Regions from separate parts of the Homo sapiens genome. Here all the other regions are linked to region 2. Evidence: fine-mapped expression QTL. A gene starts in region 2. Each other region holds a variant in brackets. All regions are shown on one strand. Distances are between the middles of the regions.

Region 1 (11,139 bases), 150 kb after region 2:
TCACCAAAAAAAAAAATTCTTTCTATTAATTTATTTTTGTTTTTTGTTTGTTTCCTTTTTTTTGAGATGGAGTTTCACTTTGTTGCCCAGGCTGGAGTGCAGTGGTGCCATCTCAGCTCACTGCAGCCTCTGTCTCCTGGGTTCAAGCTATTCTCCTGCCTCAGCCTCCTGAGTAGCTGGGACTACAGGTGCCCGCCACCATGCCCAGCTAATTTTGTATTTTTAGTAGAGACGGGGTTTCACCGTGTTGGCCAGGCTGGTCTTAAAGTGATCCACCTGCCTCGGCCTCCCAAAGTGCTGGGATTACAAGTGTGAACCACTGCACCTGGCCTGTAACAATCTTTTCATCTAGCACTATTGTAAAGAAGGGTTTGAGAATGGAAATGGGTAAGTGCAGTCCTACTTCACTTTTCTTTCTCATTTCCATAGTAGTGAAAATGTAGAGAAGAGACATGTTTACTGTTTCTCCATTGGCTGTTACAGTTTTCCAGAGGAATGAAATGTAATATTTAAGAATGAACTTGACTTGCATGAATTAAAATGTTTTCAAAATTTTGTGTGCTAAGATGACGGCAGCCAAAACAGCTATGTTTGGGTTATCTTGTTTTTTAAATTGCATGTTGGACATCCAAGTAATTCCTCTTTTATCTTGGGTAGGTATTTGTTGACTGACCAAAACAGGATGCGAAGTGTAAATGACATCATGCCCATGATTGGTGCTCGATTTTATACTCAATTGGATGCTGCTCAAATGAGAAATGATGTCATAGAGGAAGACCTTGCAAAGGTAAAGAGTGTAAATTTTTTTTTTTTTTTTTTTTTTTTGAGACAGAGTCTTGCTTTGTCACCCAGGCTGGAGTGCAGTGGTGCTATCTCGGCTTACTGTAACCTCTGCCTCCTGGGTTCAAGCGAGTCTCCTGCCTCAGCCTCCCAAGTAGCTGGGATTACAGGTGTACGCCACCACACCCCGCTATTTTTGTATTGTTAGTAGAGACGGGGTTTCACCATGTTGGCCAGGCTGGTCTTGAGCTCCTGAGCTCAAGTGATCCGCCCGCCTCAGCCTCCCAAAGTGCTGGGATTACAGGCGTGAGCCATTGCACCTGGCCAGTAAAGAGTGTAATTAAAAGAATGTACACACAACTTGCATCTGTGTATATAAATAGACACAAAATAATCATTGTACTAAATATAATGCCTTATTTGCTAAGATTTCAGATATTTTTGTCGGCACTGAATGTTTGGTATTTTAATTTCTTATGTCCTCTGGACAACACTGTTCTTTTCATTCATGGCTTTGCTACAGTCATGTGACAAAAATCTTGGTTTTTCATGTGAGTTACTTTTCCAATTCCTATGGACAGCTCCATAATCTTCTTGAGTACCATTATGAAATGAAATGGACATATTGTGTTTGTTTAAAAGTATAACCAAAAGGTGGGGATGTTAGGATTTATTGTTTAAAGGTAATATTGGTACAGGTTACCAGTTTTTGTAAATTTTGGCTTTTATGTTCAGTTATCTGGAACATTAACATTTTTCTCTTTTTAAAATGTTTTATAGGAGGTTCAAAATGGAAGACTGTTTAGGCTCCTAGCAAAATTGGGAACAATCAATGAGAGGCCGGAGTAAGGATTTACAGTATTTTACAATATATTTTTAATCGAGAGCACTATTTTGCATAATAAGAATAAGTATGCCTGGCTTTATTTGGAAAAAGAGAAAAATTCTCATGTGAAGTGACCTTAAGATTGTGTTAGCTGTTAAGGTGCTATTTTTAACAACAGCCTAGGTGTGGCTGTCCTTACGAATTTTACACACATGTATACACACAGAAAATATGGTGTGTTAGAAATCTCTTGTGGTTTGCACATGAGGGCACATTTTATGACTAATACTACCTCTACCCTATCTTCTTTTTGAGGAAGAAGTTTCATGTAAGTTTACCCTGGTCAGTTTAGAGACTTGAGAAATCTCTAATTTTTGCATGCCTCTTACCTTCTATTAAAGCACACTTTTTTTTTTTTTTTTTTTTCTTGAGACGGAGTCTCCCTCTGTCGCCAGGCTGGAGTGCAGTGGCACAATCTCGGCTGACTGCAACCTCTGCCTCCCAGGTTCAAGCGATTCTCCTGCTTCAGCCTCCCAAGTAGCTGGGACTACAGGTGTGCACCACCATACCCAGCTAATTTTTGTATTTTTAGTGGAGATAGGGTTTCACCATGTTGGCCAGGGTGGTCTGGTCTTGAACTCCTGACTTCAGGTGATCCACCTGCCTTGGCCTCCCAAAGTGCTGGGATTACAGGCATGAGCCACCACGCCTGGCCTAAAGTATACTTTTTATAGCCATCATATAAGTGACATTGGAAAGGCATTACCTTTTACACTATTTGTCACTTAGTTCCACCTCATTTGTAAGTTAATGTTAACCATATATACATAAGCAGAGTCGATGTTTGTACTACATAACTGTCAAAGACAGGTAGAACAGAATTTGCAATTACTATGACTATATACGTAAGTTACATTTCAGGAATGTTTGATTTGTTAATAGAGATAGGTGAGAGATAAATACTATTACTTGAGGGGTTGTTTTTTTTTTTTACCATGGAATTCAAGTCCACTTGCTTTTCTTCAAAGTCGAAAGACTCATTTAGTGTCTTCCCTAATAATTTTTCTAAGTGAAGAGAACATAACAATATATGTTAAACCATTTTTAATAAACTTTTAGCTGTTTCTTCTAGCATTTATCTCTTTACTTTAAAATGTCTGCTTATAGTTCTATTCTTGATTCCCCCAATATATAATTCAGCTAATGACTCATCCTCTTCCCTACACACGTGCACGCACGTGCACACACACATGCACACATGAGTTGAATCTGTATTTAGTGTTACAAAACACCTCTCCCATGCGGTCAAAAATAGGTAACCTATCAGTTCCTTTTTTTCCCTCCCACCTAGAGAATTGGCTCTGGATCCTCTGCACTTCCTGTTCCTATCTGGGCTGGTTATGCTTTAAGCCTGCACGTGCTTACACTTTAGAACTGGAACTTCCCTTCAGTATTATCTGGGAATTCTCATTATCTCTCTGTGTTGGATACCCTGTTTTCTTGCTTTATTCCTTGGTTTGTTTATTTATTTATTTATTTATTTATTTTGACTTAATGGAGCATGTCCTTGTAGCTTCCTGAAAAAGGTGAGTTTTTTTAGTCTTGCAAGTTTGAAAATGGCATTATTCTACTTTCACACATTATTGATACTGTGAATGCATACTAAATTCTAGATTGTCCTCAGAAAATTTTTCCTTTTTTTTTTTGAGAGGGAATCTCGCTCTATCCCCCAGGCTGGAGTGCAATGGCGCATTCTTGGCTCTCTGCAACCCTCGCCTCCCAGGATCAAGCGATTCTCCTGCCTCAGCTTCCAGTGTAGCTGGGATTACAGGCGCATGCCACCATGCCCAGCTAATTTTTGTATTTTTGGTAGAGACAGGGTTTCACCATGTTGTCCAAGCTGGTCTCGAACTCCTGACCTCAGGTGATCCACCTGCCTCAGCCTTCCAAAGTGCTAGGATTACAGGCATGAGTCACTGTGCCCAGCCAGGAAATTATTCTTATTAATTAAATTTTTTAAATAGGTTGTCTATGAATAAAGTAAAAAGTAGGAAAAGTTTGCAGTGAAAACTGTAAAAGTCTCTCTTTCATACCTGACATCCCCAATATCTATTCCCAGTTTCCCCCATCAGTCTATATTTTTAGTTTCTTCTGTATTATTCCAGAGTTACAAATACAACTATATATTCTTATCCCCTCCCCCTTTAAATATATAAAAATTGTAAACCATACACAGTATATTTTATCATAACAGCGTGTTTTAGAAATCTTTCTATTTAGATATGTTTAGTATATGCCAAGCACTATTCAAAATAGTTTACAAATATGACCTGACTTATTCCTCATAACAACCCTATGATGGAGTTACCATTGTTATTCCTATTTAACAGAGTAATTGCAGCATAGAGAGGTTAAATAACTTGAACAAAGGTTGCGTAATTAATAAGTATATGATCCAGGACTCCAGTCTAGACAGTATGGTTCCAGAGTGTGTGCTCCTAACCACTATGCTATGTGTCTCCTCATACTTTAATGGCCTGGTAGTAGTTTATCCTATGGATGTGTTATAGTTTATTCCCCAGTTCCCTATAGGTGGGCATTTGGGCTGTTTTCAGTCCTTTGCTAGGGTGGGCGGTACTGTAGGGACTAACTTGTGCATACTTAATCTTATATATATGTAAATATAGGCCAATTGTGATTGCTAGGTCAGTAGGTGTGCCACTATAATTTCATAGCTATTGGAGAATAGTTTACCCATGTGTGTAATTCGTGAGACTGCCTCACCAAAATACTTTTTTCAAACTCTTAGATTTTTGTCAACCTTGTAGGTGAAAAATTGAATTTAAATGCAGTTTTATGTTCTATGTACTCTTAACAAGCATGTTTGAGGGTCTGTTTTATGCTATTGATCCATTCTTATGTCCTGTTCAATTCATATCCTTTGCCCATTTTTATTTTCAATTGGATTGCTTGTCTTTCTTATTGATATATAAGAGCTAAAGAGATTCACTCTTTTTGTGATTTTTTTTTTTTTTTTGACTGCTCATTCCCCACCCTTGGAGACATTTGTATATGTCTGTAACTGACCAAATTTCTTCTTTGCTTCTGGATTTTGAATCATAGTTAGAAAGCCTCTTTCTACTCCAAGATTATGAAGGAACTATTTCATGGTTTTTTCCAGAACATTTGTGGTTTCATTTCTTCATATTAAAAATGTTTTATGTGGTTAGAAATTGTATAGGGTGTAAGGTGTAAGTCCATCTCCCCTTGTCCCCAAGACTACCTAGTAGTCCAAAAGCTGTTTATTGAATAGTCGAACAATCTAGCTTTTCCCCACTGGTTTTTGAAGCCACACCTCTTCCATACTATTTTAATTCAATCATGAAATTGAATTTTGAAATCTAGCAGTATTCTTTCCCATCTCCATTTCATTGGGCACCACTTTGTTGTTTTCCTAATACTATTAAATTTTCTGTACAAATTCTAGAATCAGCTTCTTTAGTTAAAAAAAAATCAATAAACCTGATGGTTTCTTCATAGGGAAGATAGCATATTTATCGTGTTTAAACTCTGGGAACATTTGTGATTTTAGATGTTGAGTCATCGTAACCAAGATCATGGTATGTCATTCTATTTGTTGATGTCTACTTTTGTATTCTTCAGTAGTATTTAAGTTGTTCTTTATATAGTTATAGCAATACTGAGTGTATTCTTAGGTATTTCATCTTGTTGCTATTATAAGTGGGAAAATTTCCCCCATTCTGTCTTCTTGTTACTGGTATATATGAGAATTCTTGATTTCTTTAAATTTTATGCTCTGGTACCTTATTGTTTGGGTCGTTTTCAGTAAATTCTCTTTGAGTTTCCCAGGTGTTATCTGCAAATAATGATAGTTTCCTTCCCAGTTTCTATACTTTTAATTTCTCTTGAGTGGTTGTGTTAGCGGGTACTTTCAGTACATAGGTAAGTACTAGTGATGATAGTTCAGAATTTGAAGCATTGTTCCTTTTAACTTCCAGGCAGATTCAAAGGCATTTTCTTTATAAATCCTTTCCTTCCTCCAAGCTTTTGGGTTTTGTTTGTTTGTTTGTTTGTTTGTTTAGTCACTGATGTTCAGAAATTCACAGTGATGTTCCTTGGTGTAGGTTTTGAGTCATAATGATGGATTAACAGGTGAACCCCTTTAATCTTGGAAACTTAACGTCCTTCAGTTCTGGGACATGGTCTTCATTGTTTCTTTAATAACTTCTTGTCCTGGAATTCTCATCGCTCAGATGTTAGACCTTTGCAATTGATTTTCAAATATTCTCTTCTATTTTCTATCTCTAATTTTTTTTGTTCTACTTTCTGGGCAGTTATCTCAACTGCATTTTTCTAAAATTAAAGTTTTTTTTCTAATTCTTTGAATTTTTAAATTTCTGCTATCATATTTTTATTTTCCAAGAACAATTCTGTTTTCTGAATGTTTGTCTTGTACCATCTAATTCTTGTTTCTCTGAGGCCGTCAGTTAATAGATTTTTGCTGGTGGTTGGTTTTTGTTTGTCTTAGTTTTAAGTTTTGTTCCATTCCCTGCAGTATCTCATAGGAAACAAGAGTTTGCTTTATTTTGTTTTGTTTTGTAACAAAAGATTTCTGATACTTAGCTGTCCATTTGTATTAAAAATAAGGTCCTAAAAAGCCAATGGGAAGCCTTTGTGAGGGCAGGGATTATAGAATGTTGAACCTTTCTCTGTGATAAAGCAGTGTGATGTTGTTATACATGATTTTTGTTTGTTTTTGATAGACTGTCAAGGATTATCATTTGTCTTGGACAGGTCAGCATCCCCTGAAAAGAATCTTCCAACCTCTACTGTCTGTGGTATAAGCCTGACAGCCAGGGTTTGGGAACCACACAGAGGGAAAGCATTTGTTGAATAGGGTGTCATCCAGCACTCCTCAGCTCTTCATCTTCTGGTTTGCTTGGCATCCCTGAGGCTCAAGCTTCTCTCTTTCACCCTTTTTAGAAAGTAAAACCTCCAGATTTTTGCCAGACAGGTGGCAGTGGGGTTGAGAGATGGGTTATCTGTTTGCTGTTTATAGAACCTTTTCTCAGTTCTCCTGTTTTCAGCCTCAGTCCAAACTTGCACTTTTAGTAGTCCTTTGTGGCTTCAGTTTCTGAGCTACGCCAGTGTGGGTTGCTTGATTCCTGTGGGCACCCTCTTCCCACATCCCTTGTAGAATTAGGGTTCAGTTTTGTCAGGTCTACTAAGTCATCCCACTTACCTATCTGCCTCTGCATTCCAGATGTTCATGATTATCTCTTGTTCACTATTGTTGCTTTTTCTGATCCCTTTGTCCTTGTGTTTATACCCTTTTTTAGGTATTTACTGTCAATTTGATGGGCTGTTGAAAGGGAGCAGAGATAAATGGGTGTTTAATCTTCATTTTAATTGGAAGTCCTTGGAGTGACCTTTGCAAACATACATATATGATTGTGCTAAAACCATATGGTGAACTTCTCCTCTGGTTCTTAGAATAAAGACCCAGTTTTAAAACATGTCCTAAGCTGTGTAGTCTGATCCCTACCTACTTCTCATCCTGGCGTCAAATCTGCCTTTTATTTAATTTTCTTCCCCCCATCCCCCATTCTTTGTTCTTGTCTTCACTCTGTTCCTTTTCCTTGCCCTTACCCTCCCTCTCCGTGTATTCTGTCGTCTTTTCTTCTCTTTTCTCCCCCAACCCATTCAGACACATGACCTTCCTTAAGTTTCTTCAATGTCCATGCAAATACCGATCTCTGACGAAGGAGCATCCTTCTTCTGGGAAGAGCAGCCACTACTTCCTCTGGAAAACCTTCCTTAATTGCTTTATATACTTATATTCACACATAATTTTACATAAATTTAATGTTATACATTTTCTGTAATCATTGTTTTTACCTATTTTTTCTTAATGGGAATTGTATCACAGTTTGATCTGGGAAGCAGAACGACTTTAAATGATACAGAAAAGGGATTATCAGCCAGGCGCGGCCCTAGATAAATTCATCTTCGTTTTATATCATATTCCTTTTAGGAGCATTATGTAAATATGCAGTTACAGCTTTCTTTGATTATTTGAATAACGTCTGTTTCCTACTAGACTGTAAGTTCCTAAGGTCACTGAAAACTCACAGTGGTCATCTGGTTCTTC[A/G]CAGCTTGTTTTCACATGGAATGGTAGGAAACCGATATTTACTTCCTTTTTGTTTCCTAAACATTTTTCTATTTTATGCTTATTGGTGAAGTAGAAGATGTACCTGACCTTTCTCTATTCTGTAACCTACAGAGTGGGAGGAAGAGAAGAGAAGATATTTAAAGATATTTTTACCTTTTCCATTTTATCTAATGGTAGGGGCTGAAATAAGGAGGTAATGTAAAATAGGAATGCATAAGGGATGATTTCCCCCTGACATTTGCTAACTGAAAACTGGAATTCATAGACTTACTAGTTCAGTTAGATTATTTTTTAAAAACACTGTACCAGACTCCCTCCCAATTTTTTGTTTATTGGGAAAAAGTAAAACTAGTTTGGAGTCTAAAAAATAGACATATGGCCACAGACCATACAGCATGAGTTACTGAGGTAAAATGTTCATTTCCCCCAGGTTTCAGAAGGATCCCACTTGGTCAGAGACTGGAGACCGTTATCTGTTGAAACTCTTTAGGGATCATCTTTTTCATCAGGTGACAGAAGCAGGTGCTCCCTGGATTGACCTCAGTCATATAATTTCTTGTCTTAACAAGGTAATTTGTATCTAGATTTTTTAAGATCATAATTCTGCCTATAATTTGTATAGAGTTGTATCTTCTACAAATACTAGGAAACTTAAGAAATCAGGATGTACTCTTAAAGTAGCCTGTAAGACGTTTTATTAATAACATTTTCTACAATGGGAGGATTTTTACAATACTTGCATGAATAATTTTTTGGGGCAGTGGAGGACAGAGTCTTGCTCTGTTGCCCAGGCTGGAGTGCAGTGGCCTGATTTTGGCTCACTGCAACCTCTGCCTCCCGGGTTCAAGTGATTCTCCTGCCTGAGCCTCCCGAGTAGCTAGGATTACAGGCACCCATCACCATGCGCAGCTAATCTTTAGTAGCGACAAGGTTTCACCATGTTGGCCAGGCTGGTCTCGAACTCCTCACTTCAAGTGATTCGCCTGCCTCAGCCTCCCAAAGTGGTAGGATTATAGGCGTGAGCCACTGCGCCTGGCCTTCATGAATAATTTTAGAATGTTTTATTGTGGATCTTTTTATTATGATAAAGTATCACAAAATGACTGCTTCCCTCCTTTATGCAATGTTTTATTTACATGTGGTTTTGTTATGCCGCTTAAAACAGTGAATGGTAAAAAGCAAAAAAATAATTTTGTGTTTATTTTTTAAAAATTGAACCCCTTCCGAATCATTGTGAGTTATGTTGGGTGTTATCAAATCATTATTAACTATAGATTTTTTTTTTTTTTTTTTTTGAGACGGAGTCTCTGTCACCCAGGCTGGAGTGCAGTGGCGCCATCTAGGCTCACTGCAAGCTCCGCCTCCCGGGTTCACGCCATTCTCCTGCCTCAGCCTCCCAAGTAGCTGGGACTACAGGCACCCACCACCATGCCCGGCTAATTTTTTGTATTTTTAGTAGAGACAGGATTTCACCATGTTAGCCAGGATGGTCTCGATCTCCTGACCTCGTGATCCACCCGCCTCAGCCTCCCAAAGTGCTGGGATTACAGGCATGAGCCACCGCACCCGGCCTAACTCTAGGTTTTATAATCAAGTAGTAAATAATAAAAGCACAATACTAGTGACATCAGTTACTAGCAGGTCCAGCTGTTATAAATGGTGAATTTGATGATTAGATGAATTAAGTAGATAAAAAATAGATCATAAATTTATTTGAGAGGTGAGGTGAGCTTTTTTTTGGAACGGGGTTTTGATCTGTCACCCAGGCTATAGTGCAGTCGCACTTATGGCTCACTGCAGCCTTGACTCCCCAGGGCTGCAGTGGTCCTCCTTCCCACCTCAGTCTCCTGAATAGCTGGGACCACAGGCACACGCCACCACACCCAGCTAATTTTTGTCCTTTTGGTCGATACGGGATTTCACCATGTTGCTCAGGCTGGTCCCAAACTCCTGAGATTAAGCAGTCCACCCACCCCCAAAGTGTTGGGATAATAGCCGTGAGCCACCACGCCCAGCAGCATTATGTTTTAGAAAAGGTTGGGAAAAGGCTAGGCGCAGTAGCTCGCGCCTGTAATCCCAGCACTTTGGGAGGCCACGGCGGGCGGATCACGAGGTCAGGAGATCGAGACCATCCTGGCTAACACGGTGAAACCCCGTCCCTACTAAAAAATTAAAAAAGTTAGCCGGGCATGGTGACAGGCACCAGTAGTCCCAGCTACTCGGGAGGCTGAGACAGGAGAATGGCGTGAACCCGGGAGGCGGAGTTTGCAGTGAGCCGAGATTGGGCCACTGCACTCCAGTCTGGCCGATAGAGCGAGACTCCGTCTCAAAAAAAAAAGAAAGAAAAGATTGGGAAAGACAAAATTTACAGAGAAAAGAAAGAAGACAGTTCCCTTATGAATTACTTGGCATTATGAAGTTTAGAACTGGTCTCCAGGAGTAAATGTAGTCTCTGTATAGGTTTATGTATAAACCAGGAGCTGGTAAGCCATGGCCTGCAGGCCAAATCCGTTCTATGGCCTATTTTTTTAAAGCGTGAGAGCCTCGAATAGTTTTACATTTTTAAAGAGTTGTAAAATAAACAATAAGCCAAACCTAAAACATTTACCGTCTGACCCTTTATAGAAAACATTTACTGACTCTTGGTCTAAACTTTCCTAAATTATAAGTACTAGAGGAAAAAATATCTACTGTAGCACATGATTTAGAACTATTAATGTACAGTGTGGTAACCTTTCAGGGAAAATGTTACGGTTTGTTTTTAAGCACTACTTTGCCTTCCTTTAACTTCCTTAAAACTCTATAAGGAGTATTGTCAATAACCTACATTAAGACTGCACAAAACTGGCCAGGCTCGGTGTCTCACGCCTGTAATCCCAGCACTTTGGGAGGCCCAGGTGCACGGATCACCTGAGGTCGGGAGTTTGAGACCAGCCTGGCCAATGTGGAGAAACCCCATCTCTACTAAAAATACAAAATTAGCCGGGCGTGGTGGTACATGCCTGTAATCCCAGCTACTTCGGAGGCTGAGGCAGGAGAATCATTTGAACCCCAGGAGGCAGAGGTTGCAGTGAGCCGAGATTGTGCCATTGTACTCCAGCCTGGGCAACAAGAGCAAAACTCTGTATCAAAAAAAGAAAAAAGACTGCACAAGACTATATGTATCATTGAACTAATTCAGTATGAGTTATATATTTATTTTCCCTTTATTTATGTTAGGGGAAAAACCTTTTCTTGAGAGCAATATGTAGAAAATAATTCTGTCAGATTTTAGAGCATAGTATCAGAGTACCAGTAGTTAAAAATACGTAGAACCAGAACAAACATTGACAAGTAGGTA
Region 2 (11,139 bases):
TTGCAGTGAGCCGAGATTGCGCCACTGCACTCTAGCCTGGGCGACAGAGTGAGACTCCGTCTCAAAAAAAAGAAAAAAAAAATTCTTGCTTTAATACATATCTTTTTCAGCAAGTCTCCTGATTTAAAGTTTTTCATCCAAGTATAAATTAGAAAATCTAAACTGAAATAAACATAGTCTTTGAAATAGTAAAATCAATTATTAATAGAGAATTATCCGATTTAAGATTATAATGGTCATATTTCACATACAAATATTAGTTTCTGGAGTAGGGGGTGCTTAACCAACAGAAGTGGTAATAGTGAGTTTTGCTAAGTTAAAGGTACTTCTATATGGCTGGTGGTAGTTGTATGGGATGATACCAATGATATACTAGATTGTCAGGGCCATTTCCAAGATATAATTAATTTCAAAATCATATTTGCCTTTAATGTATTTCACAAGAATATAATAAATATGAGCATCTTGAAATCCTTTGAAAACTTGTATAGAAAGGTAACAAATTGCTTTTACTGCCATAAACACTAAAAAAACCTATGTAGTATATATCAGTACATAAGTATGATGATAATGATGAAAGACTATGTCTTCTATAAAGGGTCATAGATACATTAAAAAATCTTTTTTTTGAGACGTAGTCTTGCTCTGTCACCCAGGCTGGAGTGCAGTAGCACGATCTTGGCTCACTGCAACCTCTGCCTCCCAGGTTCAAGTGATTCTCGTGCCTCAGCCTCCCGAGTAGCTGGGATTATAGGCACTTGCACCAGGCACTTGCACCACCACGTCTGGCTAACTTTTGTATTTTTAGTAGAGATGGGGTTTCACCATGTTGGCCTGGCTGTTCTGGAACCCTGGCCTCAAGTGATTCGCCTACCTTGGACTCCCAAAATGCTGGGATTACAGGCGTGGGTCACTGCGCCTGGCCAAAAAATCTGTCATGTATCAGTTATTTATCACTGCCACAAATAGGAAGGTTTTTGCTTCTAGTGCACCCAAAATTTGTCAACAAGATTAAATTAAGCAGTTGCTAGTAACTTTGTATAAAATTATAGAGCTTAGTGCATAAGGAACATACTTTACAAATATGTAAGAAATGTATTTATACATATGCAGCAAATTTCATTTCTAGGACTCAAAAACAGTCAACTCTCATTTATCCACATGCAGTTTCCACTCTATCTTAAGGGATAATTTTTATTTTTTTTTGAGACAGGGTCACCTTTTTTTCACCAGGTGACACCAGGGTTGCTGTCACCTAGGCTGTCACTGCAGCCTCGACCTCCTGGCCCAAGCAATCCTCCCACCTAAGCCTCCCAAGTAGCTGTGACCACAGAATGCCACCATGCCCAGCTAAATTTTTTTGTAGAGACAGTGTTTCCCTATGTTGCCTAGGCTGGTCTCAGAACTTCTGAGCCAAGTGATTCTCCTGCCTTGACCTCCTAAAGTGTTAGGATTATAAGTGTGAGCCACATGCTTGTCCTTAAGGGAGAATTTTTAAGACTCAGGCTGCTATCACTAATATAATAATTAACCATTCAGAAAATGTGACGTTTTCCTCTCAATCTTTATTATTATTAATTTTGAGATGAAGTCTCGCTCTGTTGCCCAGGCTGGAATGCAATGGCGCAATCTCGGCTCACTGTAACCTCCGCCTCCCAGGTTCAAGCAATTCTCCTGCCTCAGCCTCCCGAGAAGCTGGGATTACAGGTGCCTGCCACCATGCCTAGCTAATTTTCTGTATTTTTGGTAGAGACGGGGTTTCACCACGTTGGTCAGGCTGGTCTCAAACTCCTTACCTCAAGTGATCCACCCACTTCCGCCTCCCAAAGTGCTAGGATTACAGGTGTGAGCCAATGCGCTTGGCCTCAATTATTAGCATTTAATAGAAATTAACATTACCCTTTAGCAATGTAGTCTCTGTTGCTGGGGAAATGCTGTTGGAGGTCAAGTATACATTTTATGAATAATTTATGGATTATTTGCAGTTTTGGATGTAATCTTCATTAACATGAAAATAACTTAGAGTTGACTACATATTTATTTTTAGTAAAGGAATACTCAACAATGAACCCTGCTTAAAAAGACAACCCTACTATAGGAATAAGTAGTTGTCTCCTAAAAAAGTGTGGAGATATGAAATGTGTGGCAAATAAGTTTATTTTTTATTTATTGACCGAGAGGGTCTCACTGCTGTGCAGGTTGGCATAAAATGGCGCCTTCAAAGCTCACTGCATCCTGGAACTCCTGAGCCCAAATGATCCTCTGCCTCAGCCTCCCCAGTAGCTAGGACTATAGGCAAGTGCCTCTACACCTGGCTAATTTTTAAATTGTTTTGTATAGACAGGGTCTTGCTAGTTTTCCCAAGAGGGTCTTGAACTCCCGGCCTCAAGTGATCCTCTTGCCTTGGCTTCCTTCCAAAGCAGTGAGGTTAGAGGTGTGAGCCACTGTGCCCTGCCATGTTGACTTTTAAAAACCCTGTAATAACTTCCAATTGTCCTCAAGAAAAAGTTCAATTCTTTTTTTTTTTTTTGAGATGGAGCCTTGCTCTGTCGCCCAGGCTAGAGTGCAGTGGTGCGATCTCACTGCAACCTCTGCCTCCCGGGTTCAAGCAATTCTTCTGTCTCAGCCTCCCGAGTAGGTGAGATTACAGGTGCCTGCTACCACACCCAGCTAATTTTTGTATTTTTAGCAGAGACGGGGGTTTCACCATGTTGGCCAGGCTGGTCTTGAACTCCTGACCTCGTGATCTGCTCGCCTCAGCCTCCCAAAGTGCTGGGATTACAGGCGTGAGCCACTGCGCCTGGCCAAAAGTTCAATTCTTTAACATGGCCCTACAAGGACTTTTGTGGACTCTGCTCCATTTTCCACTATCACTGTATTCTAACAATAAAAGCTGTTTGCCTAGAATGCTCTTTGACTATACACTGACTACCACTAGCAGCAATACTACTTTTTTTTCGAGATGGAGTCTCGCTCTGTCGCCCAGGCTGGCGTGCAATGACGAGATCTCGGCTCACTGCAACCTCTGCTTCCCAGGTTCAAGTGATTCTTATGTCTCAGCCTCCCCAGTAGCTGGGATCACAGGCGCTCGCCACCACGCCCAGTAATTTTTTTGTATTTTTGTAGAGACGGTGTTTTACCAGGTTGGCCAGACTGGTCTCGAACTCCTGATCTCAGGTGATCCACCCGCCTTGGCCTCCCAAAGTGCTGGGATTACAGGCGTGAGCCACTGCGCCTGGCCAATACTATTAATAATAGTTACAACCTACCGAATTCTTATTAGGCATGGGACAGTTTATATACATTATTAGTTATACTTTATGAAGTAGGTACTATTCTTAATCCAGGTGTACAGACAAGGCACAGAGAAATGAAGCAATTAACTGAGAGGAACACAGCTATTAAAGTGTAGGCACTTTAATCTGTTTCAATCCAGATCTGTCTGAATTCAATGATGTTCCCAAACTTGGAACATGAAAATATCAACTTTCTCCAAGAAGTCTGACATGTTTAATATCCTCTAATAGCAAATGTGATAAGGTTAGCACTTAAGACACTGGTTTACAACGGACCTGTGTACTTGATGCCTCCCCAACCGGAAGATAAGCCATCTGAACTCACTTAAGGCGGCATGTTCACTTTTGCTTCCCCAGCTCCACAGTTAAGTGTACCACAGTTTCTGGTACACGTAATGCGTGTTAATAAAGATTTGTTGAATAATCAAATAAGCGAAACTGCTTTTAAACAGAAAGCCATAATACAATGTTATTACCTTCGAATTTGGCTAGAGAACATCACCAAGCTTACCAGTTTGTGATCTAGACTCCACTTTTCCCCATTTTTTTCAGTGTGCTACTTTTGCTTATATCCATTCTTCTGTGACTTTGTTTGCCACAATTCCTTAAATACTTCCACCCCTCCTTTTCATAACAGCGATCTGCCGTTTGTGAACCTCTTTTACAGAGAAAAACTAGAATGTTACTTTTCCTTTCATAGCAATTCTTTAAAATTTCTGAAAGCCTTTAAAAGGGTATTAGCGCAAACATCAGAGATCGCTGAGGTTAAAACTATCTTTTAAAAATGAATTTCACCGTCTCAAAAAAAATAAAAATGAATTTCAAATCAAGGCTAGGCTGATTGGAGAAAAGCAACCTAGTATATTTATAAAGGTCTTCCAGTGCTGTCTAAGCAGTGTTGTCCCAGGTGGCATCCTATTTTTCATAATTTACCGAAGGCCCTTGGTAATATAAATACAGAGAATAACAGGTGCTGCACTGAGCAGGGGGTCTGTCTAAATCAACCTTTTTGGCTCCATTTTTTGACAAAGGGCCAAGAGGTTAGCGTAATCGGTCCAGTAGTTCTCATTACCTTCGAGGGGAAGGGGAAAGAGGAGAGGGGCGAAGAAAGGAAACGGGGAGAGGAAGTGTGGCAAATAGAAGATATTCTTCAGGTAGAGCCAGGGCTCGGGCCGCGTCCCCAGGTGGCCCCTCCAAACGACCGTTTACCTTGTCAATTTTCTCTTTTCAATGAAAAAAAAAAAAAAGACATCTGGCTTTTTAAGTAAGAGAATATACAAATAAGGAAGGTATCAGGTCTCGTGAGAATTCGGCGCCAGATCCGCGTCCGGAACCCCACCGAGAGCCGCCGGTCCAACCGCCGATAGCTCGCGGATGCCCCCGGGGGCCCGACGCCGGCCAGGCTTCCCCTAGCGCTCCCGCTACCCATAAGCCCTCGCGTCTCAGCGCGCACGCGCAGCGGCGACGGCCGTCTCAGGAAGAGGAAAATGGAATAAACAACTCGGAGGAACCAGAGCGCGAGAGAGCGAGTGGAGGCAGAATTTAAAAATAAACCGGCCCCTCCGCCTTCCCCACCCGCTTGCCGCTGCCGCTCCCTCTTCCCCTGCCCGCGCCCTCGAAGTCCCCGTCTGGGCCCGCGCGCTCACCCCGTCGTCCCGCGCGGCCCCTTTAAGAAAAGAGAACGAGAGAGTGAGTGAGAGAATCCCAACTCTCCCCCTACCCTCCCTCCTTCTACCCCCTCCTCCCTCCCCTCTCCCCTCCCCCTTCTCCCCGGGCGGCTCCGGCTCCCGCAGCGGGACAGACCCACCCGCCCAGGCTTTTATCCGGCACCGGCAGCGTCTTCCTTTCCTCCCCCGTCTATGGTGGTGGCGGCGGCGGCTCCTCGGGCGGCGGCGGAAGACGAGGCTGCGGCGTTGCCATGAACAGTGGCGGCGGCCTCCCGCCCCCCTCGGCCGCCGCCTCCCCTTCCTCCTCCTCGCTGGCGGCGGCGGTGGCGGTGGTGGCCCCGCCGGGGGTCGGGGGTGTCCCCGGCGGGGCGGCGGTAGGAGTGAAGCTGAAGTACTGCCGCTACTACGCTAAGGATAAGACTTGCTTCTACGGGGAGGAGTGTCAGTTCCTGCATGAGGACCCTGCCGCCGGGGCTGCCCCGGGCCTCGGCCTCCATAGCAACAGCGTCCCCCTGGCTCTGGCTGGTGCACCCGTGGCCGGCTTTCCGCCGGGAGCCGTCGCGGGCGGGGGAGCTGGGCCGCCCCCCGGGCCCAAGAAGCCGGACCTGGGGGACCCGGGGACCGGAGCCGCAGCCGGCGGAGGAGGCAGTAGCGGGGGACTCGATGGACCGCGGCTGGCAAGTGAGTGTTTTTCGGGCGGGGCGGGCCGCGGCGGCGGAGGGCAGGCCTGGGCCGGATGAGGCCCTGCTGCCGACGGGAGCTGAGCACGGCCCGCGGGCTCCCCCCCTCACCTCCCAAGGCGGTCTGAGAGGCCTAGGCCGGGCCTGAGCCCTCCTTCCTTCTTCCTGCTTCCCCTCCCCACTGCCTTCGGCAAGTCGGAGAGCGCGGGGAGGTTGGGTTCCCGGGAACGTGGGTGGGAGGACTGGGGTGATGTGAAGGGGGGGCGGGGAGGAAGGGGGATGGGCTGTGGCGTGCGGAGTGTGAGAAAGGGGGTGTCGTTTCCGGGGGGTGTGGAAAGGGGCTGGGTTTGCAGGCACATGTGTTTTGCGTGTCCTTGTGGAGTGGCGTCTGCAGAGTGTTGAGGTTCCCTAGTGGGGAGGGGTGTGTTTGTGTGTGTGTGTGTGTGTGTGTGTGTGTGTGTGTGTAGGGGGCGGGAGGTGAGGGGCGGGCTTAAGGCTTCGTGGAGTAGGTTGAAAGAACGGAAAAAGTTTGTAGAAGGCTTGCGGGAGAAAGGTTTTGCAGGCAGGAAATGCTTTCTAAGGATTAGGAGGGAGCGGACTGTCGCGTTCAAAGTGTGCTCAGGTTTAATCGAGAGTTTAGAGTAGGGATTTCACAAAGACGCATTTCATCTGAGTTTCCCTGAAAGCTAGAATAAGTTTGCTGGTGTCAGCTGGGATCCTGTCTTCTATAGCTTTGTATCAAGCAAACTCAGCATTGTGTCTTGAATGCATGTCATGTGCAGCCTGCGTTTATGTGCGACTGAGCACTTGGGTGGGGACATCTTAAGGCTGTTTATATTTCTTTTTCATGTGTTGTTGTTGTTGTTGTTGTTGTTGTTTTGGAGAGAGTCTCGCCCTGTCGCTCAGGCTGGAGTGCAGTTGCGCGATCTCAGCTCACTGCAACCTCCGCCTCCCGAGTTCAAGCGATTCTGTTGCCTCTGCCTACGGAGTAGCTGGGACTACAGGCGCGCGCCACCACGGCCAGATAATTTTTTGTAGTTTTAGTTGAGATAGTAGTCTCGTTGTGTTGGCCAGGCTGGTCTCAAACTGCTGGCCTCAAGTGATCTGTCCTCCTCAGCCTCTCAGTGTGTTGTTATCTATTGACCTGAAGCTTGTTAGTTGTTAGTGGAGTTTACAATTGAATGTGAGCGTAATCTGTTAGAGAATGTTGCCTTTACGAATAGAGCCGGTGCCAGATGTCCCTGTTTTGTTTCTTAGTATATTGAGCGTTTCTAAACCAAATAGGAGTCCTACTTTCTTGGGAATTCTGGAGAACTAGATCTTAAAATAATCTGATAGGCAGTTCAATTTGTACATGAGAACATTTTGTCTTTTTCTTAAACACTGTTAATGAACCTGATAGGAAGTTTTAGCATTTAATTGGTCTATGAGGATTATTTAATATCTTCCCCGGGGTTTTGCTTTCTTGCTTTTTCTTTCGAGACGGGATCTTCCTATGTTGCCCAAGCTGGCCTGGAACTCCTGGGCTCAAGCGATCTTCCTGCCTGGGCCTCCCAAAGTGCTGGGATTACAGGAGTGAGGCACCATGCTGGGCCAAGTGTTGTTCTGTTCTGTTCTTTTCTCCTTTCTCTCTTCTTTCTTTTTCTTTTATAGAAGTGTTTCATTTGTTGTGATGGGCTTGACTTTAATGAAGATATATTTGCTAAGGCTGATAATGCTAAGAAAATTAATTTTGTAAATTCAGATGTTTTGTAAAACAAATGGTTACTTATGGGTGGAATTTTATCACTTTCGAGCATCAACTTTGCATTTTCAGGTTAAAGTTTTGCTGGATGTGTGAGTCGTGACTCAGTAGTAATGTTTGATTAGTAACCAATGACACTGAACAATAGTTTTCTTACTGACAGAAAGAGACACTTTTTTTTTTTTTTTTTTTGAGACGGAGGCTTGCTTGTCGTCCAGGCTGAAGTGCAGTGGTGCGATCTCGGCTCACAGCAACCTCCACCTCCCAGGTTCAAGCAATTCTCCTGCCTCAGCCTCCCAAGTAGCTGGGTTTTACAGGCATGCGCCACCACGACCGGCTTATTTTTGTATTTTTAGTAGAGACGGGGTTTCGCCATGTTGGCCAGGTGGGTCTCGAACTCCTGACCTCAGGTGATCGTCCCGCCTCGGCCTCCCAAAGTGCTGGGATTACAGGTGTGAGCCACTGTGCTGGCCAGAAAGAGGCACTTTTTAAAATGCTGGTGTTAGACTTCATAGGTGATCTTTCTAGGATTCTCTTTTTAAAAAAAACTTTTAAAGTTTTATTTATCTATTAATCTTATTCCTGACAGACAGCTCTGACGATCATTCTAGGATTTTCTTTTTCTTTTTTTCTTTTTTTTTTTTTTTTTTTTTTGAGACGGAGTTTCACTCTTGTTTACGAGGCTGGAGTGCAATCTAGTGATCTCGGCTCACCGCAACCTCTGCCTCCCGGGTTCAAGAGATTCTCCTGCCTCAGACTCCCTAGTAGCTGGGATTACAGGCAGGCACCACCACGCTCAGCTAATATTGTAGTTTTAGTAGACACGGGGTTTCTCCATGTTGGTCAGGCTGGTCTCAAACTCCTGATCTCAGGTGATCCGCCTGCCTCGGCCTCCTAGGGATTACTGGCGGGAGCCACCGCACCTGGCCGAGGATTTTCTAATTAACACACAATAGGTAGAAGGGCTGAGACTTGAAAGAGGACAGGATGTAAGCAGATGAAGATGGGAGGGGAAGGTAAGTACCCTTAAGGTGGAGGAAAAAATATTAGCAGTGGCTCAAAGGTGGGACATCTTAGGAAAATAACTGAGATATAGGGACTCGAGAGGACAGGCAGTTAATGCTGAAAAGGTATTTTAAAATTAATACTTTGTCACTTGTTAGTAAAAGTTGTCTGATTAAATAGTTGATTTATGTATTTAGATTCTGTGGTGTTTGCTTTAGCTTGTCTGGCTGAAGCCTAAGGCTCCTCTTTTCTGTGATAGGCTTCTTGGTATCTCTCAGTAATTCCTTATGGATGGAGATTTCTTCATAAGGAATCACAACCTAGGTATTACTGAGAGATACCAAGGAGTGGGAAATAATGTTGCTCAGGAATCAGGAAAAAAGGTTGTGTTGGTAATTGTATGGCTTTTTTGAGTTTTTACACTTATTGTTCATTTTTTAGACTGCTTTCTACCTTTTACTGTATTCTCATTCAGTGTGTTTTGAGACAGTATTGATCCGTTTATTTTATTTTGAAGAGATGATGTCTTGCTGTGTTGTCCAGGCTGGTTTCGAACTCCTGGGCTCTAGCAATCTCCTGCCTTGACTTCTCAAAGTACTGGGATTATAGGTGTGAGCTACCACATCTGGCCTTCATTGGTTAATTATGTGTGTGAGGCAGTTAAAATAGATGGCAATTTTTTTTTTTTTTTTTTTGAGACAGGGACCACAGGCACTGGCTACCAAGCACCTCTAATTATTTTGTATTTTTGGTAGAGATGAGGTTTCCCCATGTTGCCCAGGCCGGTCTCAAACTTCTGGGCTCAAAGCGATCTGCCTACCCTGTGAGCCACCATATATACCATAATTTAGTGTTTTTAATTTCTATGTTTGTGGGTTTTGATTGAATCATTTGACAACAAAAGAAACAAAAGATTTAATATAGAAGTACAAATTTCTGGTTTCCCTTTAAGGATGTCTCTTACCTGTGTTGGAATTAGAGCTGTTGATAGAGCATAATTCTCTCCATTTTGACTCATTCCCTAACTGGATGACTTTTATATCTAGGCATTTGAGGTTTTGACTCTAACTTTAGCACTTCACATTTGCAGAATTGTTTTTGTTTTGTTGGTGTTTCAGATAGTGTTAAAACCTTGGAGGTGGGTGCATGAGAAAACTTTATCTTTATTTTGCAGCCATTGGAAAACTGAAGCACAAAGGCTTTTTCTTAATACACTTAGTTGCAATGATGTTTCAACCTTATAAGGAAACTGCAATTTGATTTTTTGTTTTTGTTTTTGTTTTTGTTTTTTTTGAGGAGGGGGTTGGGAGTTCTTGCTGTGTTGTCTAGGTTGGACTCCAACTCCTGGGCTCAAGTGATCCTAGCACCTCAGCCTCCTGAGTAGCTGGGACTACAGGTATGCCGTACCATGTAGCTTACGTAACATTTCGTATTTCTGTTAGTCTTGGGATTTTTCTAAGGCTTAAGAGTGATTTGATTTGTATTCAACTGCATTATCGATTCTTGACATTTAATGATGTAATTCTAATATTTTCAACTGGCTAGATTTTCAAAATGGCTTTAATCTTCAAAGTGTACAATTTTTAACAGGTAAAATATGCCAATATTTGTATTTTATGTACATTATTTGAAACCCAGTAGTTTTAATTTACCAAAATACACTTTTCAATTCTCCTAATGTAGTTACTAGTGAATAAGACATGTTTCAGATAGAATCCTGGCTCTTTGACTAGCTTTGTGACTGAACGAATTTTTAACCTTTAAGCCTCAGTTTTTCTCATCTGGAAAATGGAGATGTTATGAAAATTGCATGGCATTGCCTGCACATATTGAGGTTTCAGTCTTAGTTATTGCTATTATTAAATATTAATAATCTATAGTTAACCTCTGTATTTCCTTCTTCAAATTTTTGAGGGCATACATTGAAGACTAGTAAAATAGCTACAGATTATTGAATTGTGATTGTCCAAATGGAGGAGAGCAGTGCCATGGATAACTTGAAGTTCAAATGTTAGCTTTGGAATATGTAATGTGTAGCGTGTGGCAAAGCTGTTTTTGTTTAAGCCAAGACTAGCCTTTTCATCCCACAAACCTATACTAAGTGACAGAGAAGTGAGTACTGGCGATTTGCTGTTAGGATAGCTGGCATAAGTTTAAACATTTTTATTGGAATAATATACTTAGTATATCATGAAGGCTTTATAATACTGTTCATTTCACTCATTTAATATCCTGCTTCCAAGGTGGTAAGCTCTGATTAAGGTGATAGGAACAACAACAGCAACAAAAAAACATAATTCAGCCCTAATGGAGTTTACATTCTAGTGGGGCTATAAATATCTATAAGGTAATACTTGGTTTCGATAAGTTTTTTTGTTTTTTTTTTTTTTTTTTTTTTTGATATGGAGTCTCGCTCTGTCTCCCAGGCTGGAGTGCAGTGGCGCAGTCTCGGCTCACTGCGAGCTCCGCCTCCTGGGTTCACGCCATTCCTGCCTCAGCCTCCTGAGTAGCTGGGACTACAGGCGCCCGCCACCACGCCCAGATAATTTTTTTGTATTTTTAGTAGAGACGGGGTTTCACCGTGTTAGCCAGGATGGTCTCAATCTCCTGACCTCATGATCCACCTGCCTCGGCCTCCCAAAGTGCTGGGATTACAGGCGTGAGCCACTGGGCCCGGCCGGTTTCGATAAGTTTTATGAGGAAAACTCGAGGGATAACGTAACTCCAGGTGAGATTGAGTTAACAAA
Region 3 (11,139 bases), 160 kb after region 2:
CTAAGTATTTTTCCTAAGGAAAAAGTACTTCCCACAGAAGAAAAAAATTAAGTAGATGAGTATGTTCATTGCACTGTAATTTATTATGCCAAAAATGGAAGATACTGGGAGAAAAATTATGGAGCATCAACTGGGTAAACTATAATACAAACAAACGTTAAGCGTGAAGGGATAGAAACATAGGGCAGTGTTTGTGTAAAAATGTCTGAGTCGAAAATTATGTGCATACTGATGAATGATATAAATGTACTCATGGATATCTGAAAGGGAATGTGACAAAAAAAATTTAGATATTTTATTTATTTTTGCTGCAAACGTAGATAAATTCTTTTCTGCATGTTATGAATTTCATATTTTGTGTATATATTGTTTCAGCTAGATGCTGGTGTGCCAGAAAAAATAAGCCTGATTTCCAGAGATGAGAAGAGTGTACTTGTGGTGACCTACAGTGACTTAAAGCGCTGCTTTGAAAATACTTTTCAAGAACTGATTGCAGCTGCAAATGGTCAGTTGTAGTATTTGCTAAAAAAGCACGCAGGACATGGCTAAAGACCTTAACCAATAGCAAATTGCACTACAGCTGAACTTTTCATCATCTCATTCACATTTGGGAAACGAACAGGAGATGAGCAAAGCTGCTTGCACTTCAGTCAGGTACACTGTTACTTGAAAGGAAGAATGTTTCACTTACCCAAGAGCTATGGCTGCCATTGGAGGCTGTTATCTGTGAAGAATTTATTTTAGATTTAGGAGCACCATCAGGTGAATGATGTTCCTGCTTTTGTTTTTTCCACTTGTATATGCACTAATTTTAATTTTTTAAAGACTTTTTCTGATCTTTGAACTTTTGCCACATTGTATACTTATAATGGGAAACTTTGCAAGGACATTTTTGGGAAGCAATGCTGGGCAGCGTTTTTGCCATTGAGGGTTGCAGAATTTGCTCTTTTTGGGATGGGTTGCCCTGAATAACATTACGGACCAGGTAAATAATTTCATAGAAGTTCAGTATAGTACGTAATTCTTGTAAGAGTATCGTATGCAAGCTCTCTGTATGCCACCCACTGTTAGTTCAAATTGAGATTTTTGTTTTGTTTTGTTCTTAAGAACATACCAAGAAAATACCAGTGAATTGTTGGATATGAATTCCCTGTTAGTTGATTTAAATCCTTTCTGAATAAAGATCAGATAAACAGTAACTGAAGGAGCATGTATAGCTCTTTCCTTCAAATTCAACTAGAGCCTTTTTAAAAAGACATTTGCCTGCTAGTCAGATACATTTACATTTATGCAAATTTTTTAAATAGGAGAAAATTAAGAAATTGTGTTAAAGGCCTAAAGTTCAGGAGTGTATTACTTTAGGTTCTTTCCAGTTTGCTGGTTTTTTTTTTTTTTTTTTTTTTTTTTTTTGGGCGGGGGGGAGGTTTATGAAGTTTTGCTCTTTGAACCACAGCTTTATTATGGTCCTTTACACTGGAGACAGACACAGAGACACTGTTCAGAAGATGAACTAAACTCAGCAGTGGTCTGGTATCAAGAGCTTTCTGATGTTTTACAGCCTGAATTTGGAGGGATAACGATCTGCTGTGCCTTTGCAGTCACTGCTTAGCCCAAAGTAATAGTACTTTTGATAATAACTCACTCTGTGCGATATTCCTGAATAAGTCCATCTCAAAAGTTTGGGATTTTCCTCCTCTTAACTTTCTTAATATTTGGACATGCAGTTGTCGCCAAACTTGGGTATTCATGGAATTTCTAGTAAATGAAATACCTATACTTTGATACTGAAGACTGCCAAATACATAGGAATTTTCTTTCTTAAAAAACAGTAATGAAGACTATATCTCCTTTCCCAGCACTGAATGTTTTACTAGCACTGGGTGCTCACCATGCAACTGAAGAAAATGTGGAAACTCAAAAGGTCAGGACAGACTTCCAAGCACTTGCAACTGATGTTACTGTCTTCAATTTTAATAATTACACATATTTGTATATTTCAGAGAAGTTTTTAATATTTCTCTGTCCACTTTTTATAAGCTTTAAAATGATTTTCTCTGCCTTGAGATTTGCATCAAGAAAAAGCACCTCTCTTCACCTGAAAGCTTTGAAGACTAGAGACACGCTTTACACGTTTTAACAAGTATATTGAGTCCACGTTTGGTAGCATCAGTTGTTGAGTTAAAAAGAAAATTATTGCATTTGATCTGGATGGATTTTAAAAGAATATAATGTTCAATATTAAAAGGATAATTCACATTTGCCACCATAATGTTCTTTTTTATGTAAAAAGAAGAACTTGGAGACATTAACATGAAAAAGTCTTTTATCATTAGCTCATGTATTTGAGGAAGAGCAGCTGTCTTTTTATATGTTTTTTGACAAATCATATTGTATTCTTTTGTACAAAAAAGAACTACTTGTATTCTAGAAGAAATATGAAATGCTTAATTTATAAGCGGGCTGGAGATTTTTTCCAATATTGTTTTCTTTGAAAATGAAAGGGGATCATCTATTTTAGTTTTGGGGTCTGGGAACTTTTTGAAAATTTAATTTGTGGACCAATGTTTTGTGAAAGCTAAAGAGGGCAGGGGTTAAAATAGGGCTTGAATTTCTCATTCTGTATAGACCAGCAAACTTCCCTGTGCAAGGCAAGTTTACATCACAAATCCAAGAATGTTTGCATCCTAAATGCTAGTTTGCTTCAGCCCCTAGTTAACCTCAGGACTTGGTTTGCATATAAAAGGTAGACAGCTGATATGTTTTCATGAATAAATATTGTCAGCCAGAAAAGGTTGGTGTCAGGTAATGCATATTTTTTTAAGCTTTGTTTTATATTTATTTTTCATTTAGTTTTTATTGGGAATGGTTTTCAAAGAACTCTCAGTTCTGCCTAGGTGTTTTTGGGGGAGCCCTGTTTTCCATAGTGTAATTCCATTTAAGAGGTTGTCTAAAAGTCTTTTTAATTAATAGAAAGATTTTAATATCCAAGAGTAGTCAAATTAAGGATATAAACTTTCCACACCTTCCTGTCGTGACAGATAAAAGCACAGAAAGGACAACCCTTGAAATCATGTAACGTTGGTCATTTCAATATTTTGTACCTGTTTTAAATTCTGTTAGTGTATTTACTTCATTGTAAATATTTTTGAGGGTACCTTTGTATTTTGCTTTTGACCTTGGTTCTGTGATTTGGATGTCAACAACTTCCCTAAAAAGCACCAGTGTGTTAGGTTCTAATGTCATGACCCAATTTGTGTTATTCATCTTTAATCCTGTTTTCAGTCTCTATGTGTACAGCAGTATTTTTAATAAAGAATTACAGAGATAAATTTGTCCTTTTCTTGCACGTGTTCATATAACAAGATGATGATTATCTTATGATTGGATTTTAAAAGATTGGTTATTTCCTCTGTATTTTGGAGGAATTTTTGTATTTGGATGAAATGGCAGCAGATTTATTCATTAATTTATCAGGTAGTCCTTAAGTCTTATCTACTGTGTCCTTGGATCTGTTCTAGGCACTAAGACAGATACAGGGACTTGGTATTTACAGAATGTATAGTTATACCCAAACATCTTAATACAATACATGACTAACAATGTAGTTTAGGAGAGAAGACTACTCACGAGAAAGCATAAGGGGTCTGCCATGTGTATGTCTGGTGGTAAAGTATTCCAGGTAAGGGAATGTTTCAGAGCCTTTGCGGAACAGCAGGGGAGCGAATGTGGCTAGAGCCAAGTTAAGTAGGAAGTGACGTCAGAAAGGTCTATAGGGAAGGGGTGTGTCCTGTGGACCATTTTAAGTATTTTGGCTTTTACCCTCAAAAGAGGAAGCCGTGCCGGGCGCAGTGGCTCACGCCTGTAATCCCAGCACTTTGGGAGGCTGAGGTGGGCAGATCACGAGGTCAGGAGATCGAGACCATCCTGGCTAACATGTTGAAACCCCCTCTCTATCAAAAATAAAAAAATTATCCAGGCGTGGTGGCAGGCGCCTGTAGTCCCAGCTACTCGGGAGGCTGAGGAAGGAGAATGGCGTGAACCCAGGAGGCAGAGCTTGCAGTGAGCCTAGATCGCACCACTGTACTCCAGCCTGAGCATCAGAGCAAGACTCTGTCTCAAAAGAAAAAGGAAGCTGCAGGAGGATTTTCAGCAGAAGAGTAACATGATAAGACATTTAAAAAGGATCACTCTGGCTACGACGTGAACAGACTGAGGGAGGAAGTGAGCTGTTGACATGGTGGGAAACTGACAGCATCCCAAGTGAAGGATGTTGGATTTTAAAACCCATGTCTTTTGAGTTTTGTTGGGTTTTTTTGTTTTGTTTGAGACGGAGTCTCACTCCATCGTCCAGGCTGGAGTGCAGTGGCACGATCTTGGCTCACTGCAACCTCTGCCTCCTGGGTTCAAGCGATTCTCCTGCCTCAGCCTCCCGAGTAGCTGGGATTACAGGCATCCGTCACCATACCTGGCTAATTTTTATATTTTTTGTAGATACGGGGTTTCACCATGTTGGCCAGGCTGGTCTCAAACTCCTGACCTCAGGTGATCTGCCTGTCTTGGCCTCTGAAAGTGCTGGGATTACAGGCATGAGCCAAAGCGCCCAGCCATCTTTGAGTTTTAAAACCCACCTGCGACTGAGCACGGTGTCTCACAGCTGTAACCCCGGCACTTTGGGAGGCCGAGGCAAGTGGATCACCTGAAGTCAGGAGTTCCAAGACCAGCCTGGCCAACAGAGCTGGTCTGACAAGAGCGAGACTGTCAAAAAAAAAAAAAAAAAAAAAACACCTGGACTAGGGTGGTAGCAGTAGAGGTGGTGCAGAGTGGCTGGACTTCAAATAAGGTTTTAAAGGTAGAGCCATCAGGGATGTCCTGATTCACTGGATGCGGACAAAGAAGAGAGAAGTCAGGAATGACTCTTAAGATTTTGGCTTGCTGGCCAGGTGCAGTGGTTCATGCCTGTAATCCCGACACTTGGGAGGCCAAGGTGCGCAGATCACCGGAGCCCAGAGTTTTGAGACAGGCCTGGGCAACATAGTG[A/G]GACCTTGTCTCTACAAAAAGTAAAATCAGCCAGGCATGGTGTCACGCACCTGTAGCCCCAGCTACTCAGGGGGCTGAGGTGGGAGGATTGATTGAGCCCAGGAGGTCAAGGCTGCAGTGCACCGAGATGGAGCCATTGCACTCCAGCCTGAGCGACAAAGTAAGACCCTGTCTCAAAAAATATTTCCTTTGGCTTGATGCTCACAGGATAGAGGATTCTGCTGAATTGGAAGAGACTGTTGTAAGAACAAAGAGTCTACAGGGCAGGGGAGGATGGAGAAACAGGAAAAGACAATTTGGGAGTTTGGTCTAAGGCCCATTAAGTTTGAGATGTTTAGTACACATTTGTTCTGGTTATTTGCTTTGTAACAACTCCACCCTTAATGGCATAAAACAAGCATTTTATTACATTCAAGGATTCTGTGGGTCAGGAATCTGGGCAAGACACAGCAGGGAGGCTTGTCTCTATGCCATTGTGATTGGGCCTCCGCTGGGAAATTCCAATGGATGGGGGCTGGAGTGACTTGCGGGCTGGACTCAGCTGGCTGCTGTCTATGGGAGCACCTTCACATGGCCTCCATGTGGCTTAGGTTTCTCCAAGTATGGCTGCTGGGTCCCTGGCGGGAACTGTTGAAGAGTGAGTGTACCAAGACTCAGGAAGTGCATGATCTTTTCTGACCTGGCCTCCAAGCCATGCAGTGTCCCTTCTTTCACATTGCATTGATCACAAGTGAGTCCTAAAGCTAGCTCTGATTCTAGGGGAGGGGACATTGCCAAAGGTCGTGTGCCAAAGGTCGTGTGAGATGGGAGATAATCTTGCAGCTGTCTTTGAAAAATAGAATATTTTTGAAAAATACAGTACAATATCTTTGAAAAATACACCTGTATTTGAAAAAAATACAGTCTGCTAGAGCATCAAGGGGAGATGTCAGGTTAGCACTTGTGTATATATGAGTTTAGAGTGTTGCAGCGGGCAGGAAGAATCTCTTCTGTCCATGAAAGTCATCATATGGGTGTCATTGAAAGCCCTGAGATTGGTTGAGATCATGAAGGAAGTTGGTATAGACTGAGAAAAGAAAGCTTCAAGGGCAAGCCCTGGGGTAACTAGAGCAATGTTCAAAAGTCAGGGAAAAGAGGTAAAACCAGCAAAAGAGACAGGTAGCCTATGAGATGGGAAGAAGAAAGTATCATGTCCTGGAACCAAACTGAAGTTGTTTTTGCGAATAAGTGTCAAGCTGCTGAAGTGTCAAATAAGAATGGGACTGAGAGTTAGCCATTGGATTTATCAATATGGAGTCACTGGTGACCTTAGCAAAAGCAGTTTCAGTGAGTGATCGTGAAAGCTAGGCTTGAGTGGGTTTAAGAGTGAGTGGGAGGAGAGGAGTTGGAAACAAGTAATAATAACTAATAACCAACTCGCTCATGGGATTTTGCTGTAAAGGGAAATAGAGAAATTGGGTGGTAGCTGGAGGAGAAAGTACAGATGAAAATTTTGTAAGATGGGAGAAATAACATGTATGTTCCAGTGGAAAAGGGGAAAATTGATGGTGGGGGGCGGTGGAGAATTGCTAAAGCAATTCAAGTCTCAGAGGGACACCAGTGTGTTTTGGGTTGGCTGTCTAGAAGGGCAAGCACAGTATATGGGGACATAAGCTTGGAGGTGGGGAGATGTGACAAGTGGGGTCTTGGAGTTCTTTAATTTTCCCATTGAAGTAAAGGATATACTAATAGTACCTATCATGTTAGATTGCCTTGAAAATAAGTGTGTTCCTTTAAAGCACTTTAAATAGTTGCTGGCACATATTGGGTACTCAAATGATAGCAATGATAGCAATTACTAGCTATCACTGCTTCCCAAATACCAATCTGTGGAACAACATGTGTTCATTAGTTTATTCTAGTACAAATGAAAATGGGAAAAAGAAGGATAATATAGGTATGTTTCAAAACAAATATATTTTAGTCTGAGATTAAGCCCTTCCACCTTTTAAAATGGGTTTTCTCCTATGAAAAGTAGTGGTACTAAATGGCAGGGGTTTTTTTCTTCTTTTAGTAATATTGCATTGAAGAATTGTGTACATACATTCATATATATACACACACATTCACAAGTAAGTGTGCAGCTCAGTGACTCATCATAAGGTGAGCATACCTATGCACTACCACCCGGATCAGGAAATAGAACATTAGTAGCATCTGGTTGGATTTTGGGTTTTTTTTTTCCCCCTCCCTCAAGTGTTCTTAGCTCGCAGAATAGAAGAATGGCCATCCCTGTGTTGGGATCAAGGATTTTTTTTTTTAATTTCCTGGCCTGTGAAACCCAAAAGTCTGGTAATATGTTTAACACTGAGGAGTCCAATAAACCTTACTAGGCCATACTTCTGCTGGAGGAAAGAATAAAAATTAATTCCCAAATGTACTATAAGTTTCCAGAGCCATGAGAACATTTCTAAACTGACGTGACATTGATTCCTCAAGCATTCTTCAAGTCATTTGCCTGAATGAATGATTTTATTCTTATGTTATGAAACCCATAATACTTTTTAAAGGATTTCAGATTCTTGAAGACAAAATGCCTCTTGCCCTCTTGAGTTAACTAAAAGTGTACTGAGATTTGTCATTTATCCATTTTTATTGTCTTTGTCCCAAAGAAAGTAGGCCTATTTTTTCCCCTTAAAATATCTTTCCAATCTAGTTTCCTTATGATGATATTAGGCGGGTAATACTATGACCAATTTCTAAGACAAAGTGTTGGTCACTTATTCAATTTCTAGTACTTAGTGACCTGAGTTGTTTTCCTAGGACATAATCCACAAAACAAGATTGAAGAATACAGAGCTGGCATGTGTACTTTTACATTCTTGGGTTTCAAGCTTTTGCCTATTATTTTGTGTGGTTTTCTGCAGCATGTGTACACACCCTCTGTGATTATGCTAATTATTTATCAGCTGAAAATTAGTGTTTGGGGACAACTGCCTCTTTTTAATTGAGGGCACTTTTCTCTGCGGCTGGCACTCACACCCAGCATATGCTTTACTTGTTTCATGATCCTGTTGATGTTAGGGTTTAGTTTTCTGGGCAATCTGCCTAGTTTGATTTTGTTTTTTACTTACTGGTTGCAGTGTTCTGATTGTTTAGCACAGCCATTTTCTAGGACCGATAGAAACCTCTTTGCCCTCTCTTCAGCAGCATTTGCTTTATCTTTCTTGTGCTGTGTTTAATAAAGAGCACTAGTCCTCCACCCCCAGGGACACCTGTGACCTCTTTTTTACACTTAACAAGCAAATCAGGGAGAAAATATATGTGTTTTTGGAAGTTTATTATATGAAGATGGTATACAAAATACATTCATCATGACTAGAAATATAGGACCAAACCATGTCTGTCTTATATCTGTAGCATATATTCTTGGTTTGTATAAAAGTAACTTTAAAATTCCAGTTTCCTTAAATAGTTATGCACAAAACACACATACACCCACACACACACACACACACACACACACACACACACATACAGTTACACCACTGTCGGCCAAAGATGCACTCCTCCTTTAATCAATTTAAATGAGGCTAGCGAGTATCTGTTTGATGTTTGCATTCTTGTGGGCTAGGAAACAAGGCACGGGTCCCTAAAATTAACATCTCGGTGTCACTTCTTGGACTGACAAGACACAGACTTGCACATGGTTTCAGCCCCATTCCACCCAGACTGTTCCACGTACATTATCTCAGAAACTCTGAAAGGAAGTGCTCGTTCTTTGTTAGTGCCAACCATTTTTGTCATAAATGGCAAATGATTGGAATATTATCAGTTAATTCATGTTTCAATTTTCAGTGCTATTTTAATGAACAAGCACTTTGTAACTAGCTCATTATTACAAGTCTCCATTTTTCTTTCTACATTAAGACTCCAGATGGAACCATTCTTTGACTGATGGATGGACTCATGTATGCTACAAACCTGAGTTTGAAGGAGCTGAGTAACAATTCTAATGGTTTTGCTTTTCTCTTGAAAAGGAGTATTTATTATGGTCTCTTAATGATTAAGAATTAATTATTGAAATCAAGACATGAATAGCTAAGGTTTTATTTGTTATCACTATTTGCTGGGCTATTATCTGATTTGGAAAAAAAAAAAAAAGTAGAGAATTGACTGAGGTCTTCTTTTTTCTGTGTTTAACCTCCTTCCAGTTACCTGATTTATAAAATTGCCAGCTGTCACAGGTGGTTTGCGTATGTAAAGAAGAGGAAGAACAAAGATTTGTCCTCTCTTCTGGCTCTAGCCTGCTTTTGTTTGGATTTAGATCTTGGTGGAGAGGACTGTCCCACTCCTCTCTTCTGGCTAGTGAGTCTTCCACAAAAGCCGCTGCCAGGAGCCAGTAGGCTCACTAGGGAATGTGCTGATGACGGTCCCATCTCTTCATACAGAGAGCCTTTAAACAAGGATGTGGCACATAAGAACAGAGGCATACATTCTTCGGTTACTTAGAGCTCAGGTTCTACAGTTAAATTACATGGATAAAAGGAAGCATACTCTTCTCCCCAAGAAGCAGCAATCCACTGTTGCCTCTCCAGCTTCTGACTGGCTGCAGAAGGTGCAGACATCATAAATACATAGACCCTAACTTGCATAAATAGCATCAAACAGAGCCAGCTTAGCGATCCAAGGCCCACTTGATCTTTAGACCCTGAAGAGTAGGCGCCCTTTCCTACCCTGTCTCCCTATTCCCATCATGCTCAGACCCCAGGCAAGTTTCAAAGCAGTTGAAAATGGGCTTTTCTTCTAGTGATGGCTCATTAACTAATATCCTGAGTCCCAACTGGAGAAATACCTTGCATAAATTACATACCACCTTTTTACTCAAGGAGCTTAAAGTGCTTAATATGCGCCAGCTAATGCTCTTCCACATCCTTTCAGATTAGTGTGAGATAGTGGAATCCCCATTAAATGAAAAGGAAACGTGACTGACTTCCTGTGTTTTGGGTCCCAACTGTGTTGGTGAATTGGTTTGGTTGGTATAGAGACGGGGTTTTCCCTTGACCTTATTGACCTTTTTCCTCCATCAGCCCTCGTTTTGATATGGAGAAAACTCCTCTCCTCAGGACTGCATTTTCATTCTTCTCAGCTTTCTTTCACAACTAACTGTGCAAAACAGAATAATACCAAGAAATTGAGTTAAGTGTCTGGACTATATATTAATACCCAAAATAGAATGTGACATTTTCAGTGTAAGGCCATCATGGCCTGGAGACAACCTAACTCTGGCTAAGTTTTCAGTGCATCTTACTAGAGGAGCCAAAAGTATGGGCTCAGAGTTGAGTGCCACCCTCAGTGCTACAAATCAAAACATGCCACGAATGAGAATGGACATAGAACCACTTCCATAGGTAAAGTTCTAAAATTTGCTTTAGTTCCAAAAAAGATATTTGTCCTTTTCTTGCCTCCCAGAATCCAGAAAATGTCCCCTCATCGCTGTCCATCTGCTCCTGGCTGGGCCCTCAAATGTAGAAGGGTCAGAGCTGGGAAGCCACTGAAATGGCATTGCTGAGCCCCGTCCCCCTCCGTGCCCACATGGTGCGTCTCAAATTCTTTCTCATGCCTTCTCCCGGTTTCTCTTTTCTCCCTTGCTTTTTGCTTTTTTTCCTTTTCCTCCTCACATGTCTTAGGCCTGCTAGAGGACTCCCGAGATGTTGCTCAGGCCAGCCAGTGATCCCTGGGGCTAACGGGCTTGTTGCCCTGGGTTTTGGGCTGCAGGGCTGGCCCAGTGGGGTACGTGATGCATTGGGTGATCAGTGCAGCTCCTCAATCAAACTGGTCCTGCGTGCCCTGAGGTGGCGGGGGTTGGAGCAGGGAAGTCATTGGGTTTAGGAAGGATTTCTCTAACACTGAGTAACATGAGGATTTAGCAGTAGTGTTCTTCACTTGTCACTATTTCTCTATCTGGAGTTACATTCTTGTTAGTCAAAAAAAAAAAAGCACTATTAAAAAAATCACAAAAAGCAGCTGGCTCCCATGGAAAGATAAAGGTGTAAACTTATATATGCATAATACTGGCAAAAGCTAGTTTCCTGGGGGTATAAATACACATGTGCTTCTAGA

Evidence for each region.
Region 1: its variant is fine-mapped to the expression of PAN3 in whole blood (TOPMed, PIP above 0.99).
Region 3: its variant is fine-mapped to the expression of PAN3 in whole blood (TOPMed, PIP 0.92).

Annotation. Positions count from the first base shown.
Region 1 is chr13:28,279,755-28,290,893 of GRCh38, forward strand. It overlaps PAN3 (poly(A) specific ribonuclease subunit PAN3), which reads left to right. Exons shown (of 19, transcript NM_175854.8): 16 at 658-787; 17 at 1,561-1,625; 18 at 8,230-8,368. LOC124903140 (a long non-coding RNA gene) reads right to left here and starts at 8,233. Exons shown (of 2, transcript XR_007063735.1): 1 at 2,601-8,233. RefSeq lists enhancers at 9,300-9,801, 9,802-10,301. The variant A/G (reference allele first, on the strand shown) is at 7,779.
Region 2 is chr13:28,133,444-28,144,582 of GRCh38, forward strand. It overlaps PAN3 (poly(A) specific ribonuclease subunit PAN3), which reads left to right and starts at 5,102. Exons shown (of 19, transcript NM_175854.8): 1 at 5,102-5,644. The coding sequence starts at 5,215. It overlaps PAN3-AS1 (PAN3 antisense RNA 1), which reads right to left and starts at 5,731. Exons shown (of 2, transcript NR_029383.1): 1 at 5,104-5,731; 2 at 3,400-4,962. RefSeq lists silencers at 4,947-5,056, 5,247-5,326, 5,367-5,766 and an enhancer at 5,849-6,143.
Region 3 is chr13:28,292,007-28,303,145 of GRCh38, forward strand. PAN3 (poly(A) specific ribonuclease subunit PAN3) reads left to right here. Exons shown (of 19, transcript NM_175854.8): 19 at 376-3,329. The coding sequence ends at 516. It overlaps FLT1 (fms related receptor tyrosine kinase 1), which reads right to left. Exons shown (of 30, transcript NM_002019.4): 30 at 8,340-11,139. Among named protein-coding and RNA genes, the nearest start is that of PAN3-AS1, 160 kb to the left of the region's middle. RefSeq lists a silencer at 4,308-4,466. The variant A/G (reference allele first, on the strand shown) is at 5,038.